Linked DNA regions of Homo sapiens. The protein of the gene in region 3 interacts with the protein of the main gene of each other region in a pairwise test. Each region holds a gene or a part of one and is shown on either strand. Other genes may lie near its edges.

What was found. Proteins that work in one complex are often made in the same cells at the same time.
Region 1: the proteins of TRIM14 (region 3) and PPP2R3C interact in a two-hybrid assay, tested with the Homo sapiens proteins (one large-scale study listed by BioGRID).
Region 2: the proteins of TRIM14 (region 3) and PHF11 interact in a two-hybrid assay, tested with the Homo sapiens proteins (one large-scale study listed by BioGRID).
Region 4: the proteins of TRIM14 (region 3) and PRDM6 interact in binary tests that used the Homo sapiens proteins (3 or more experiments, as listed by UniProt).

What each region holds. Positions count from the first base shown.
Region 1 is NC_000014.9:35,087,982-35,090,990, reverse strand, and holds part of PPP2R3C (serine/threonine-protein phosphatase 2A regulatory subunit B'' subunit gamma), read left to right. Parts: intron 1-2,980; coding exon 2,981-3,009. UniProt on the Homo sapiens protein: May regulate MCM3AP phosphorylation through phosphatase recruitment. May act as a negative regulator of ABCB1 expression and function through the dephosphorylation of ABCB1 by TFPI2/PPP2R3C complex.
Region 2 is NC_000013.11:49,519,953-49,523,452, forward strand, and holds part of PHF11 (PHD finger protein 11), read left to right. Parts: intron 1-941; coding exon 942-988; intron 989-2,090; coding exon 2,091-2,155; intron 2,156-3,222; coding exon 3,223-3,289; intron 3,290-3,500. Other genes in the region: SETDB2-PHF11 protein, read left to right, coding at 942-988, 2,091-2,155, 3,223-3,289. UniProt on the Homo sapiens protein: Positive regulator of Th1-type cytokine gene expression.
Region 3 is NC_000009.12:98,095,223-98,098,722, reverse strand, and holds part of TRIM14 (tripartite motif-containing protein 14), read left to right. Parts: intron 1-3,500.
Region 4 is NC_000005.10:123,095,741-123,099,240, forward strand, and holds part of PRDM6 (putative histone-lysine N-methyltransferase PRDM6), read left to right. Parts: intron 1-3,486; exon of another isoform or gene 3,487-3,500. UniProt on the Homo sapiens protein: Putative histone methyltransferase that acts as a transcriptional repressor of smooth muscle gene expression.

The sequences.
Region 1 (3,009 bases), on a different chromosome or scaffold from region 3:
GTAATCCCAGCACTTTGGGAGGCCGAGGCAGGTGGATCACAAGGTCAGGAGATAGAGACCATCCTGGCTAACATGGTGAAACCCCGTCTCTACTAAAAATACAAAAAATTAGCCAGGTGTGGTGGTGGGTGCCTGTAGTACCAGCTATTTGGGAGGCTGAGGCAGGAGAATGGCGTGAACCCGGGAGGCAGAGTTTGCAGTGAGCCGAGATCGTGCCACTGCACTCCAGCCTGGGCGACAGAGCGAGACTCCGTCTCAAAAAAAAAAAAAAAAAAAAAATTGTGAGATGCAGCAAAAGCAGTGGCTAGAGGGAAATTTATAGTATTGAATGCATATACTGGAAAATGTTAAAGATCTAAAATCAGCATCTACTTTAGGAAATTAGAAAAAGAAGAGCAAATTAAAGATATATCATTTGGTTTAAATTAAATATTTAGTAACCATTTTACCTAACTCGTGATTTTTATTTATTTTTTTCTTTTTTTGAGAAAGGGTCTGGCTCTGTCGCCCAGGCTGCAGTGGCATGATCATAGCTCGCCGCAACCTCCAACTCCTGGGCTCAGGCAGTCTTCCCACTCAGCCTCCCCAATAACTGGGTCCACATGCCTGTAATCCCAGCTACTTGGGAGGCTGAGGCAGGAGAATCACTTGAACCCAGGAGGCGGAGGTTGCAGTGAGCTGAAATCGCGTCACTGCATTCTAGCTTGGGCAGCAAAGCAACACTCGGTCTCAAAAAAAAAAAAAAAAAAAAAACTACAACTACCAAAGTCTATAAAAATTTCTGTGGAAAGGAGCTACCTTTTCTGAACTGCTTAGCATCTTACAAGTTTTTCATCACAAGTATAGAATTTATCACATATTTGTATTTCCAATGGTAGTACAGCCCCTGACGTATATTTACATATTTTTATTTTACATCTAGTCAAATCAGCTTTCACTCAATTTTTTTAAGTAGGAAAGAAAACTAAAAACTTGATTTCTTTCTGAAATCTGTTATGTAAATGCTTTTATTAAATTTAAAAATCGGCCGGGTTGCGGTGGCTCATGCCTGTAATCCCAGCACTTTGGGAGGCCAGGGTGGGCGGATCGCAAGGTCAGGAGATCAAAACCATCCTCACTAACATGGTGAAACCCATCTCTACTAAAAATGCAAAAAAATCAGCCGGGCGTGGTGGCGGGCGCCTATAGTCCCAGCTACTCGGGAGGCTGAGGCAGGAGAATGGCATGAACCCAGGAGGCAGAGCTTGCAGTGAGCCGAGATTGCGCCACTGCACTGCAGCCTGGGTAACAGAGCGAGACTGAGTCTCAAAAAGAAAAAAAAAAATTAAAAAATCATACCCCAGGCATGGTGGCTCACACCTGTAATCCTAGCACTTAGGGAAGCTGAGGCAGGAGGTTCACTTGAGCACAGGAGTTTGAGACCAGCCTGGGCAACACAGGGAAACCCCAACTTCTACAAAAAATTTAAAAAATTAGCTGGGTGTAGTGGTCACATGCCTGTGGTCCCGGTTACTGGGGAGGCTGTGCCCAGCCAGTTGTAGATACTTTTATTTGCTATGTTGAAATAAACCATGAAAATAATTTTTAGGCCAGGCGTGGTCGCTCATGCTTCTAATCCCAGCACGTTGGGAGGCCAGGGAAGGAGGGTTGCTTGAGCCCAGGAGTTGGGAAACCAGCCTGGGCAACATAGGGAGACTCCATCTCTACAAAAAAATTAAAAATTAGCTGGGTGTGGTGGCACATGCCTGCAGTCCCAGCTACTTGAGAGGCTAAGGTGGGAAGATCACTAGAGTCCGGGAGGTCAAGGCTGCAGTGATCCATGATTTGCCACTGCACTACGGCCTGAATGACAGAGTAAGACCCTATCTCTAAAAATAAAAATTAAAAAAACTGAATGCTATATGGGCTTATATCAGCGGCTCATCTGAGAAAATAAATACCAACCCATCATAGGAATGCCCCTACTTTAGACAAACCTATTAGGTAAAAATCCAGTCTTAAGAAAATAAATGTATTTGAAATTAAACACTGCTCTTTTTCATAAAGATTTCTTTACAGTATTTTCTACTCTTAGAATATTAAATTGTTTTAAAACTACTTTAAAAATATTTCATATAGGCATTTTGTCAAAGCTTATTTAGGCTTGGTTATATGGGATAAGGTAAAAAGTGTCCAATGCTGAGCCCTATAATCCTGGGCTGTTCACAGAGCGTTTGGACATCACTATCCTAATGATAAAGCTGGGTCTGGATGATTCACTCTAGATCATACCATCTATTACTATATTAACAGAGCATGTACTCAGATTCTTATCTACTTCAAAGGGATTCCTTTATGGATACTCTGATTATTAGTGGTAACAGAGTAGGCATCGGGAACAAAGTTGACTGTTCACCAAGAATTTGAAACTTCACATTTCCAGTGAATAATGCTCACCTGAAGTATTTTGTATTCCTACTGGATGACAGCAGTTTCTTCATTTTTTTGTTAAAGTTTATGAAAAGGAAGAGTTTTGGGAGGTCTACCTCCATTTCTTGTATTACGTAGAAAGCAAAGTGTAGGGTAGGAAGGGAGACAGTAGATTGGGGATCTTAAGAGAATAGTGAAGGCAGGAATAACATTCATGGAAAATGAGAGGAGCAGATCAAACAGAATAATTGTGAGGCCATGCTGAGGGCCTGTTTGAGGTTGGAGAACATTCCTATGTAGAAGCAGCAATCCGTAATCTTTTTATTTTTTTTCCTGAAGTTCTCAATAGTTAAGATATAGGTCTAAAAAGGTCAATACACTAATCGAGAATTTAGGTTTTGCTCACTGATGTGGAATAAGGTCAAGAAAGCTAAGAAGATTGGCAAGAGAGAGAATGATGAGGTTTGTGGCCTGATAGGAAAGGAAGTATAAGTAGAAAGGGGTTGTAGGGCAAAAGAGGGATGTTGTGTATTTCATTTTTTATTTACAGATTTATTTCTATTAAATACAGGCCATACAGGAACTAATGAAAATCCATGG
Region 2 (3,500 bases), on a different chromosome or scaffold from region 3:
ATCTGAAGAGGAAGGGAGATGAAGCTGGGTGCCGAGGAGGAGGAAAGGTTAGAAAGTGGCCTGAGCAGCTCTATAAAACGATTCACTTCATTTCTTTTGTTTTGTTTTGTTTTAAGACAGAGTCTTGCTCTGTGGCCCAGGCTGGACTGCAATGGTGCGATCTCAGCTCACTGCAACTTCCAGCCTCCTGGGTTCAAGCGATTCTCCTGCCTCAGCCTCCTGAGTAGCTGGGTCTACAGGCACGTGCCACCATGCCCAGCTAATTTTTGTATTTTTAGTAGAGGCGGGGTTTCACCATGTTGGCCAGGAGGGTCTCCATCTCTTGACCTCGTGATCTGCCCGCCTCGGCCTCCCAAAATGCTGGGATTACAGGCATGAGCCACCGTGCCCGGCCTCACTTCATTTCTTCATCATAGCCTGCTATGCTGCTGCTTTCTCTTGGAAGATACTAATCAGTTCTAGGCCCTTTGTAGGTCAAATCTAAGATCTGGGGCAAATACCTGTTTTCATCGAAAATGACTTTTTCCTTAAATTAATGCTTGCAATTTTGTGCTATTTATTGTTGAAAACCAGCAGAATCTTGTACAGTCAGATGGAAATCTGCATGTCTTAGATTGTGGATCTTTAGGTATCTTTATACAGTAAAATCTCACTGACCACTGTATATGAACTAGTATTGTTCATAATACTTCATCAGTACTCATTCCTTGAAAGAACATAATCATCTTCCTAAGTCCCTGAGGGCATAAAAGACATCTAACTGAGTCTCCATCTGCACTCAGTGTGGGTCACTAATTTTACACAGGGCTTCAAAAAAAAAAACTTTAGTGTGACGCCGTCATGAAAAGTAGGTTGGTACGTTTTTAATCACAAAAATAGACATAATATTTGAAACCTGTAAATAAAAATATTTTACAATTCTTTGAAATTAAATATTTCAGACTGCTTTGCCAGCAACATGCTCAATTCCCGATCATCGCTCAAAGTGGTAAGTTTCTAAAATTTAGCACTGTGGGTTTTAAAGAAAGGTAAACATTTATGTAACATAAGGAATAGTCTAATTTTCTAGCCTCGTTGAATTAAAATACAAATGTTTGAGTTAAAATTTTACACATCTAGAAAATTGACAACTTCTTTGTGTACTATGTGATATGACTGACTAATTTTTTCTTCTTTATGAACAAGACCTATTCTCTTTGAACCATTCCCTGGTATCTTTCATTCTCCCTACGCTCACAGAACCAAACTAAGACATGGGAAAAAGCCTTGACTTTTGGGACTGCTTCTCTTCCATAAGAATTTTCAGTAGATAAAATTTTAAAAGTGCTGCACCTTCCCTGAGTGAAAATTCCCTAAGGATGCATGGTTAGCATTTCAGTTCTAATTAAGGCAGACTGGATCCTGGCTAACTGGAGTCATGGGGTATACTTTCATTCATGAGTGGAACAGCAGTGTCTTAGCAGCACTACATCTGCAATGTTCATTGTGAAGTGGAGTCAGGACCTCGTTGGAAGACTTCGTTCTGCGTCATGCCAACTGCATTTTATGGTGATAACATTCTCCAAATAGCACCTCTACAATCATTTTTCAGTCGTTACCCTTTTAACTCAGCAGGAAAGGCTATTACAGATACTTCTTTAAATCAGTGTTTATTGACAGGGAAAAGCACCAGCAATACACACTTAACCAAATCCTTGCAAATGTCATCTATTAAATATCTTCATCCTTATTAGTCTGTTTTACTTTGAATATCTTCTGAGTGAAATTGAGTGCATTCCCATATCTTTTCACCAATTATATTTGTTTTCCTATGACCCAATTTGTTCATTTTTCTATTCAATGAACCCTCTCCCCAGAGAGTTCCCCATGTGCCAATTTTTCTACTCAATTATTTACCTGTTTTGCATTAAACTTATAATATCTTTTTTAAAAATTAACCCTTTATCATAAGTGCTGCAAACACTTAGTTGAAGTTTGCCATATCTTTTGACTTTGTAAAAACTTTTGGCATATGAGTTGTATATTTCATGTAGTCAAACAGTAATCTTTTCCTTTATGGATTCCAATTTTTAAATGGTTTATATTTTTAGCTAAATTTTCAGGAGTGAAAAGAAAAAGAGGAAGGAAGAAACCCCTCTCAGGCAATCATGTACAGGTAATTTGACTTAGTTTTTATAGCTTTGCATTTCTTCATACAGAGTCCTTATTTAAACCAGTCTGAATGTCAGGTGAAAGGTACTTTCCAAATCGTCCAAACAGAGAGCCTTTGAAGAACATTCTTCATTTGTGTTCTCAGCTAAGGCTGCTCCTGAGGTTGCCTTTTTAGGAAGAATCCCATAGTCGGGAAGCTCTTAGATAATTCCTAGATGATAGAATCATGATGAGATGAGCATGAAAATGAAGCTGGAAGTTCCAAGCACATAACCTTCAGGAGGTGACATTCTCCGAGCTCCTATAAATTCCCTGGCACCAAACTAGTGAGAGCATCTGACCCCACAGGTGCTTACAGTTAAAACGGGCAGAGGGTGCAGTCAAACATCCTTATGGAGCCAAGTATTTCCCAGCTGCATGACCCACACCTGACCAAATCTGTAGCTCTTATAAATTTCTGGATTATGTATAAAATGTATGAAAATATTTTGGGGATTTGAGTTTTTACACATCAGCACATATAAGCTAAATTCATATGCGCCAGCAACCTTCACCTCCTCCTGTTTATACAAGGGGTGCTTGTCAAACACCTCTTAATGTTTTATAATACAAAACAAAAATATATTTGATGTTTACATCTAAATATGAATATGGGGTTTTTTTGTTTTTTTTTTTTTTTGAGACAGAGTCTCTCTCTGTCACCCAGGATGGAGTGCAATGGTGTGATCTAAGCTCACTGCAACCTCTGCCTCCTGGATTCAAGTGATTCTCCTGCCCCAGCCTCCTGAGTAGCTGGGATTACAGGCATGCACCACCACGCCTGGCTAATTTTTGTATTTTTAGTAGCAACAAGGTTTCACCCTGTTGTCCAGGCTGGTCTCGAACTCCTGACCTTGTGATCTGCCCATCTTGCCCTCCCAAAGTGCTGAGATTACAGGCGTGAGACACCGCGCCCAGCCAGGGCATGATTTTTACTGTAGGCATATCATTTAGTTATGCACAGCAAAAGACTGGTTTTCATTTTATGCAATATTAAAATCAATGTAATGCAATCTTGATTTTCTCTCCTAGCCACCCGAAACAATGAAATGTAATACATTCATAAGACAAGTGAAAGAAGAGCATGGCAGACACACAGGTTTGCGCTAAGTGTTGTCTGTAACAAATATGGCCTACAATACTTATAAAAATGTCAACCCACCTGTTTCAAACTTGGTATCCCGCCTAAATCTTTATTCTTCTAGGCTTGTGGTAATTAATGAGTATAAATCTTTATCGCAACTGTCCACTCTATTGTAATCCCAGCATATCAAGATAACTTAGGTTGGAATGGTCCATTGCATTCAGTA
Region 3 (3,500 bases):
TACTTTTTTCTTTTTTTTTGAGACGGAGTCTTGCTCTGTCGCCCAGGCTGGAGTGCAGTGGTGTGATCTCGGCTTACAGCAAGCTCCACCTCCCACCATTCTCCTGCCTCAGCCTCCCGAGTAGCTGGGACTACAGGCGCCCCCCACCACGCCCAGCTAATTTTTTGTATTTTTTAGTAGAGATGGGGTTTCACCATGTTAGCCAGGATGGTCTCCATCTCCTGACCTCGTGATCCGCCCCCCTCGGCCCCTCAAAGTGCTGGGATTACAGGCGTGAGCCACCGCACCCGGCCGATGGTGTTCCTGTCTTTAGGGAACCGTGGAAGAAACTGTTGTCTGGTGTCAATATCCCTGTGCAGTCACTTCTGCACTAGAATTGCTTTTCCACTAATAGAGCTCCTCCTGTTTCCTTCTTTGCCTTGGGAAGTTCAGAGCCAAATCTGCTTTGACTAACCAGACTAAGGCTTCATGGCAAACACTTTGTGTCTAATTTTCTCTTAGCTTCATTTTTCTCGCTATAAAGAAAAATCTTGCCTTATTAGAGGACCTTCACAAGACACTTTAAAGGCTGTGGGACAAGGCAGGGTACAACTAAAAGTGGCACCAACTCTAACCACAGATTAGTATGGGCTCTGGCTGGAAAATAAGACAGACAAATAAGCCAGTCAACACAAAACCCGCCAAGCCAGTCTCCAGCTGGGGATTTCCACTCTTGTGTCTTTATGTGGCCTCAGTCGGTTCAGCCTGTGTCTCATTGTCAGCTGTTTGAGCCAAATTCTGGATGAAGTGTTTTCCTAGGCATAATGGGTGTTGTGCTTTAAGAGAGGCAAGATGCACAAAGTGTTACATGTAATTGTCTCTTTTTAAATAATGGTCGTTTTTAAGGCTATGGAATACAAAGGAATCCTTCCATGGAGAAGCATGCTATTCTCACATCAGAAAACGGTTTCAGGGCTTTGTCATCTTTTTTTTTCAAATTCTCTTGGGCCACAGCTAATGATTTTAATCATTCACCGTTCCCACCTTCTATGTGTTCATTCGTTTATTCATCAATATGTACTGAGCCAGGTCACTTGCTGGACATTAGGAGCTCACAGTTGGGTGGGGGACTTGCTCAGAAACAGTTATTTACAATACAGCTTAAACAATTTTGTAAATATGAAGCTAGCAAAATTATGTCCAAGAAATGTCTGACACTCTCTGGCTGGGAGAAGGATGCAGTCTGGGAAGACTTCTAGGAAGAGGTGATGGTAGGGTTGGGTGCTGGACAATGAGTAGGAGCACACTGTATATAGAGAGGACGCAGAGAGGACAGACAGGAACTGTGTACATGTGAGAGCTTGACAGGCTGGGGAACCAGCTGGGGTGCAGCCTGACTTGAGGAGAGGTGAGGGTATAAGGGTGGGGGGATTGAGAGACACAGCTGGATCCATAGGCCATAGTTAGTTCATGAAGGCCTTATGTGCCATGGAGTTCAGACTTTGTCCTGTAATGAGATAGGAGACAGGAATGTTTGTTTGTTTGTTTTTGAGACAGGGTCTCACTCTATTGCCCAGGCTAGAATGCAGTGGCTCAATCTCAGCTTACTGCAACCTTTGCCTCCCAGGTTCAAGGGATTCTCCTGCCTCAGCCCCTGGAAGAGCTGAGACGACAAGCACGTGCCACCATGCCCAGCTAATTTTTGTATTTTTAGTAGAGACAGTGTTTCACCATGTTGGCCAGGCTGGTCTCAAACTCTTGACCTCAAGTGATCTGCCCACCTTGGCCTCCCAAAGAGCTGGGAGGTGTGAGCCACTGCACCCAGCCCAGGGGAGTGTTTTGAACTGAGGGATGAAAGCATTCACATGGTCAGATTAGTGCTTTAGAAAAGTCACTTTAGAGATAGAGTGGAAGATGGACAGAGGAGGCCAGGATGGGAGGCTGGAAGAGAACTTGGGAGGAGGCCACAATGTCCAGGAGAGAGATGATGGTGGCCTGGACCAAGACAGGGGCAGTGGGGATGGGGAGAAACAGGCAGGTCAAGAGATGCCACAGGAATGGAGATTGGAATTGGAGAATGGGTAGGAGGAATCCCCAGATGATGCCTGGGTTTCTGGCCTGAGAGATGAAGGGCTGGGATTTCTGTTCTCTGAGTCTGCAAAGGCAAAAAAGTGGCTGTGCTCGGTTTCATGCATTGATTTATTCCATCATACATATGTTTTGAGAACCTGTGTGTCAGGTCTGGTGCTAGCTGCTGGAGTTTGGGGTTACCAGGTGGTGCCATGTGTCCTCTATCGACCCCTCATCCTACCCTACTCATCTGCCCTCTGAGCCCCCTCTCGCCTCCCCGGAGCTGCTCCCTGCCCACCCTGGACTTCCTGCTAGTGCTTGGTCTCCCCTGGCCAGCTCCATTCCAGCGCTCTGGGTGTGACCTTAGGCCTGGTTCCCCACCAAAATGAGGTTGGACTCTATAGACTCCTGGCCTCCTAGGCTGAATGGGGCTTGCAGGCCATCTCACAGCCCCCTCCCAATGTACAGCATGCTGCCAGGTGGGATCTGCCCCTGCCCAACAGCCAAGTGCTAGGCCACCCTCCCTCCCTCCTGAGGCCCTCATCTGTCCACCCCTTCTCGGGTGGGCAGCACTGCCACTGCCAGCCAAGCCTGATCACCTGAGGCAGTCATCTTCCTTCCAACTCCTGGCCAGGACAGAGCTTCAGAAAATGCAGCCATGGTTCTTACCTGCAAACATGAGAATCCACTGGAACTGTTTTAAGCAAGAAAGGAGTTTATGGAAGAGTATGAGATAGCCCATAGGATCTCCAGGAGGGCCAGAGAGTCGGGATGGAAGATGGGCAGCAGGAATGAAGTCCAGACTCCAGCAGGGGTTGGTGCCAGTATAGGCCCCACGGCACCCCTGCTGGGCAAGACATCACCACTCACACCACTGACCAGAGCCCCCACCACTGCTGTCCCTCAGTGCCACATGCCACCATCACTACCTTCACCGTCATTTCCAAATCCACGCTTTGGCTTGGAGGCGTCTGGTCACACTCCTGCAGCACAGGTGCAAAGGGAGCTGGGAGAGGGGGTTTTCTAGCTTCTCCTTAGTGAAGCCACATACCACAGGAAAGTATTGAAGAGGGGCTGTCCAGGTGCAAAACAGGACACATGTCCCCTGCGGTGGCCACACCCCCTCAGTCAGCACTGCAGCTGAACCTTGCTGGCCTTTGGCGTCCTTCTTAGAACATGGTTTCCTGCTCCACCTTTGAATAAGCTCCAGGTGCTCCTTCCCCAGGGAGACTGACCTCTCACCCTTTTTGTACCCAAGGCAGACCCGTGGCGCAGTGTGTGTGAGGCTGAAGCCTCTCTGGGAAGGGCCCCGTGTCAGCCTGACCCTGCCTTCTGCATGCATAGCTGGCACAGAGTAGGTTTCAATGAACACGTAAGGAAGGAAGGAAAGGAGGAAGGATGGAGAGGGAGGAATCCCCAGTGCCAGCACTGAAAAACCGCACCTCCGCATG
Region 4 (3,500 bases), on a different chromosome or scaffold from region 3:
AGGCGTCGGGCAGGTACTGGGGAGTGAAGATGTGATGTAGCTCTCACTCCCCACGCGCCTACACATGACTGTTGGCCTCTCCACACACCAAAAGCCCGGAAGCGTTTTATATTTCACCTTTCCTAGAACGAGAAATGAAATTCCAGAAAAGAAAACCATGGCCTGCTTTGCCGCCTTTACCTTAAAATAGATATATTGTAAAGATCTATTGCACTTTAAAGACATTGAAACAACACAGAAGGATAGGAAATGAAGAGTGAAAGTCTGCTCTTAACTGCACTTGGCCTGGCCTTCTGATGCCAGGAGGCGAACAAGTCTGTAACCTAATGACAGCACCTTCCTTTACTCAGAGACGCTTAGACAGGAGCATTGACAGATTTACTCAAGATAGAAGAGTATTTATGAATAACAATTATGAACTTGTACAAAAACTCTTCCCCTGATTTTAAGAGAAAGTATGAACATTTACTTGCTTCCTTGTTAGGAACCTAAGTAGTTGTATTATGTATTGCTTGGCTTGGAATGCTCTGTGTGTGTATATATAATATAATGACATATATTATATACATTTATACATAGTTTGGTCCTCTCATATAGCCTGCTTCTCTTTCAAACCTTTTCATGTAGGTGTTTATACTCTGCTAGAATGTTTGTCTTCTTAAGCATATTTGTCAATCCCAAGAAATGTTACTTGTTTTTAATATCCTCAAGCTACCCTGAGACTCAGACATAAGTTAGAACCCAAATGTTTCAGCTGGGGGATTTTGTGTATTAAAAAATAACATTGGAATATAACATGTATCTTGATGGCAGTTGGTCAACTTTTCTGGCAGAATATTTTGATATAGCATGAAGTGGTTCACAAATTAAGAAGACCCCTGTTGGGTGGACTAATTAAAGTTGATTGACTTTGTCTAGCCTGCTGTGGACCTAACACACAGATAGTCTTCTAGATATTGGGAGAGCCTCAGTTTTTCACTTTTAATAGTAGCATAATGCTACTATTAAGTTTTTCAACTCTTTATGGAGACAAATGAAACAATAAGTTGAAGACGGCTTTAGAGGACTTCTTGGAGAAAGGCCTTAGCCACAGTTTTATTATCATGCATTACAAATATTAGAAGTGTGCTTTTTGTCTATGGAGGTAGTGGCTGGAGTTGGTACCTATGCTGATGTCGTTGATGGGATGACACGTGTGGAGAAGCATGTTGGAAGTTGACTGTCTCTGGCACAGGCTGCTAGGGAATGAAAACTAAACACTCTTCTGACCATTTGCATCATTGAGTCAAGCAGAAAAAAAAATCAGTTAAGTAACTCCCTGGAGTGACTTATTTCTATTTCCATGGGCATATTGCCTTTGCTTATTGTCATTTGCTTTTAGCTATTTTTGCAAAGGTGCTGAAAGGCTGTCTCTGAAGTCAGACAGTAACATTCAAAATTATAGACATTATCTATGTATTTTCCTATCCAATCTCTTACTTTAATGTCCGAAAACACAAGAGTGTGGGAAAGAGAGAAACCTCTATAACTCAATCATGCTACAGCAATTTTCATGGCCCCCAAAGTTACTTCAGTGAAATATTTCAATTCAATTGAGTCATGAGTTTGAATGTTAAATTTCCCCAGCTTTCATTAGTCTTTTAAAAATCTCTGGGTTTAGAGGCCTTGCAGTCAGGCAGCCTTGACTGTGAATCCTTTCTCTGCCACTTTCTAGCTTCTGGTTCTTGGTGGAGTAGTAGTGCTTGGGAATTGCTTTATCTGCAGAATGGGAATCATGATACTTAGATAATATGCTGGTTTTTGGTTCTAGACAGGTGTCTGACACATGGTATGCACTGTAATTGTGTTTATTGTCTTTCATGTAATTCCCAAAATGTCTTGAAGTTTTTATTTTCACAATCAATAAGCTTGAGAGGGTGTGTGAAGTGTGTGTGTTTCAGAGGAGTTGACATATGGATAAGTGTGAGAATACTCCCATCCAGGCCCTGGGGTCAAAAGCAGAGTCTGGGAGAATTTTAACAATAGTTTGTGTTGCTGGCAGAGGAAGGACAGAAGAGGGCCTTTGTGCAAGGGAGGCCCAGCGGCATGGACACTTCTCTGCTTTCCGAAACAAGTTGTTGCTTTTCACTTCAGAGGTCTGGGGACATTTCTGAGAAGCTTGCAGCCCTCATTCTTCCAGCTCTCTTGGGAGGAGTAGAGGAGTAGCTGCTGACTGAGGCAAAGGTTTGGCTGGCTAGAGCCCCCTCCAGTGAGACAGGAGGCTTACATAGTCAGCCCTCCTTTGCTGTGAAGCAAATGGCAAATCGAGGGCTCCCTTACCATGCTGGGTTGCGATTAGCTGTTCCTGACACAAACGTTTCATACAGACTCACAAGTTTCTTGGGCATTTCGGTCATTTCAGCGCAGATAGGGCACATCCAGGGTGATCCAACAGGCCTGGCTGCGGCCAAGGCTGGCGGCGGCAGGTACCCGGGTGCCCCGAGGGCCACCCGCCGCCCCGCTCTGGCGCATCCATCAGTGGCCAGCTTTCACCGTGTCTGCCAGGCGGGACTCGCCAGGTGTCAGGCTCAGTGCCATAAGCCTGACACTTGCGCGGGGTCGCCGTGGCTCCTCAGGGAAGCTGGGCCAAGGAGGCTGGGTCGCGCCGGCGGGCGCCGAGGCCACCTTCTCGGGGCAGGCCATCCGCGCTGAGGCGCAGACACGGCGGCTCCTCCAGGCCCATTAATAACCCGGAGGGCGCTGCGATCCGACAGCGCAGTCGCCACAGGCTCTATTTCCCGTGGCCGCCTGCCTCCTTCCAGCCCAGTTCGAGTGGAGGGATACTGGGCGCCCACTACCGCCCGGCCCGGAGGGTGGGGGTCCCTCTCGCGCAGGCTGCTTTGGAGAGTGTCGGAGAGAGACAGCTTTATCTACAGCTTCACCCATTGTATAGCACAACAGAATCGCATTTAGCCTGGAGAACAGCCGTCGGGGCAGGAGTTGGTGCCTTCTCTAACAATTAGGCTGATCGTTAAATTTGCTATTCCTTTCTTCCGGCGTCTAGGGAGAGCGTGCACACCAAACCCTCCAGAACAGCACCCCGGTCCCCCACCCCGCCCCACCTGTCCCCGCCCTGCTTCAGTGCCTGGAGGGAGAACTGACTGGTCGCTTGAGGGACCCCATTTCGGGCGCGCCCTTGGAGTCCTGGGGCTGCGGCTCCTGCTCTACCGGGCTGCAGGCTTGCTCTGCCCCGTCCCGTGGCGTTTGGGAGGCAGTCGAGGAAGCCTCCGAGTCTCTGGGTCGAAGGAAGTGCGAATGGCACCCGCGATAGACTGGCCGTCTCCCCCACCCCGCCCCGTCTGGTGATTTTAAATCGTCTCCTGTGTAATTGTAAAAAGAGGAAAGCTGAATACCCAGACGACCAGTATAGAATCTCTTCGAGACAGCAGATTGGGCAAGAGACGGGCTTTTTTTCGCAATACAAGGATAAACACATCCTGAAACTCCAGATAGAAACCTCA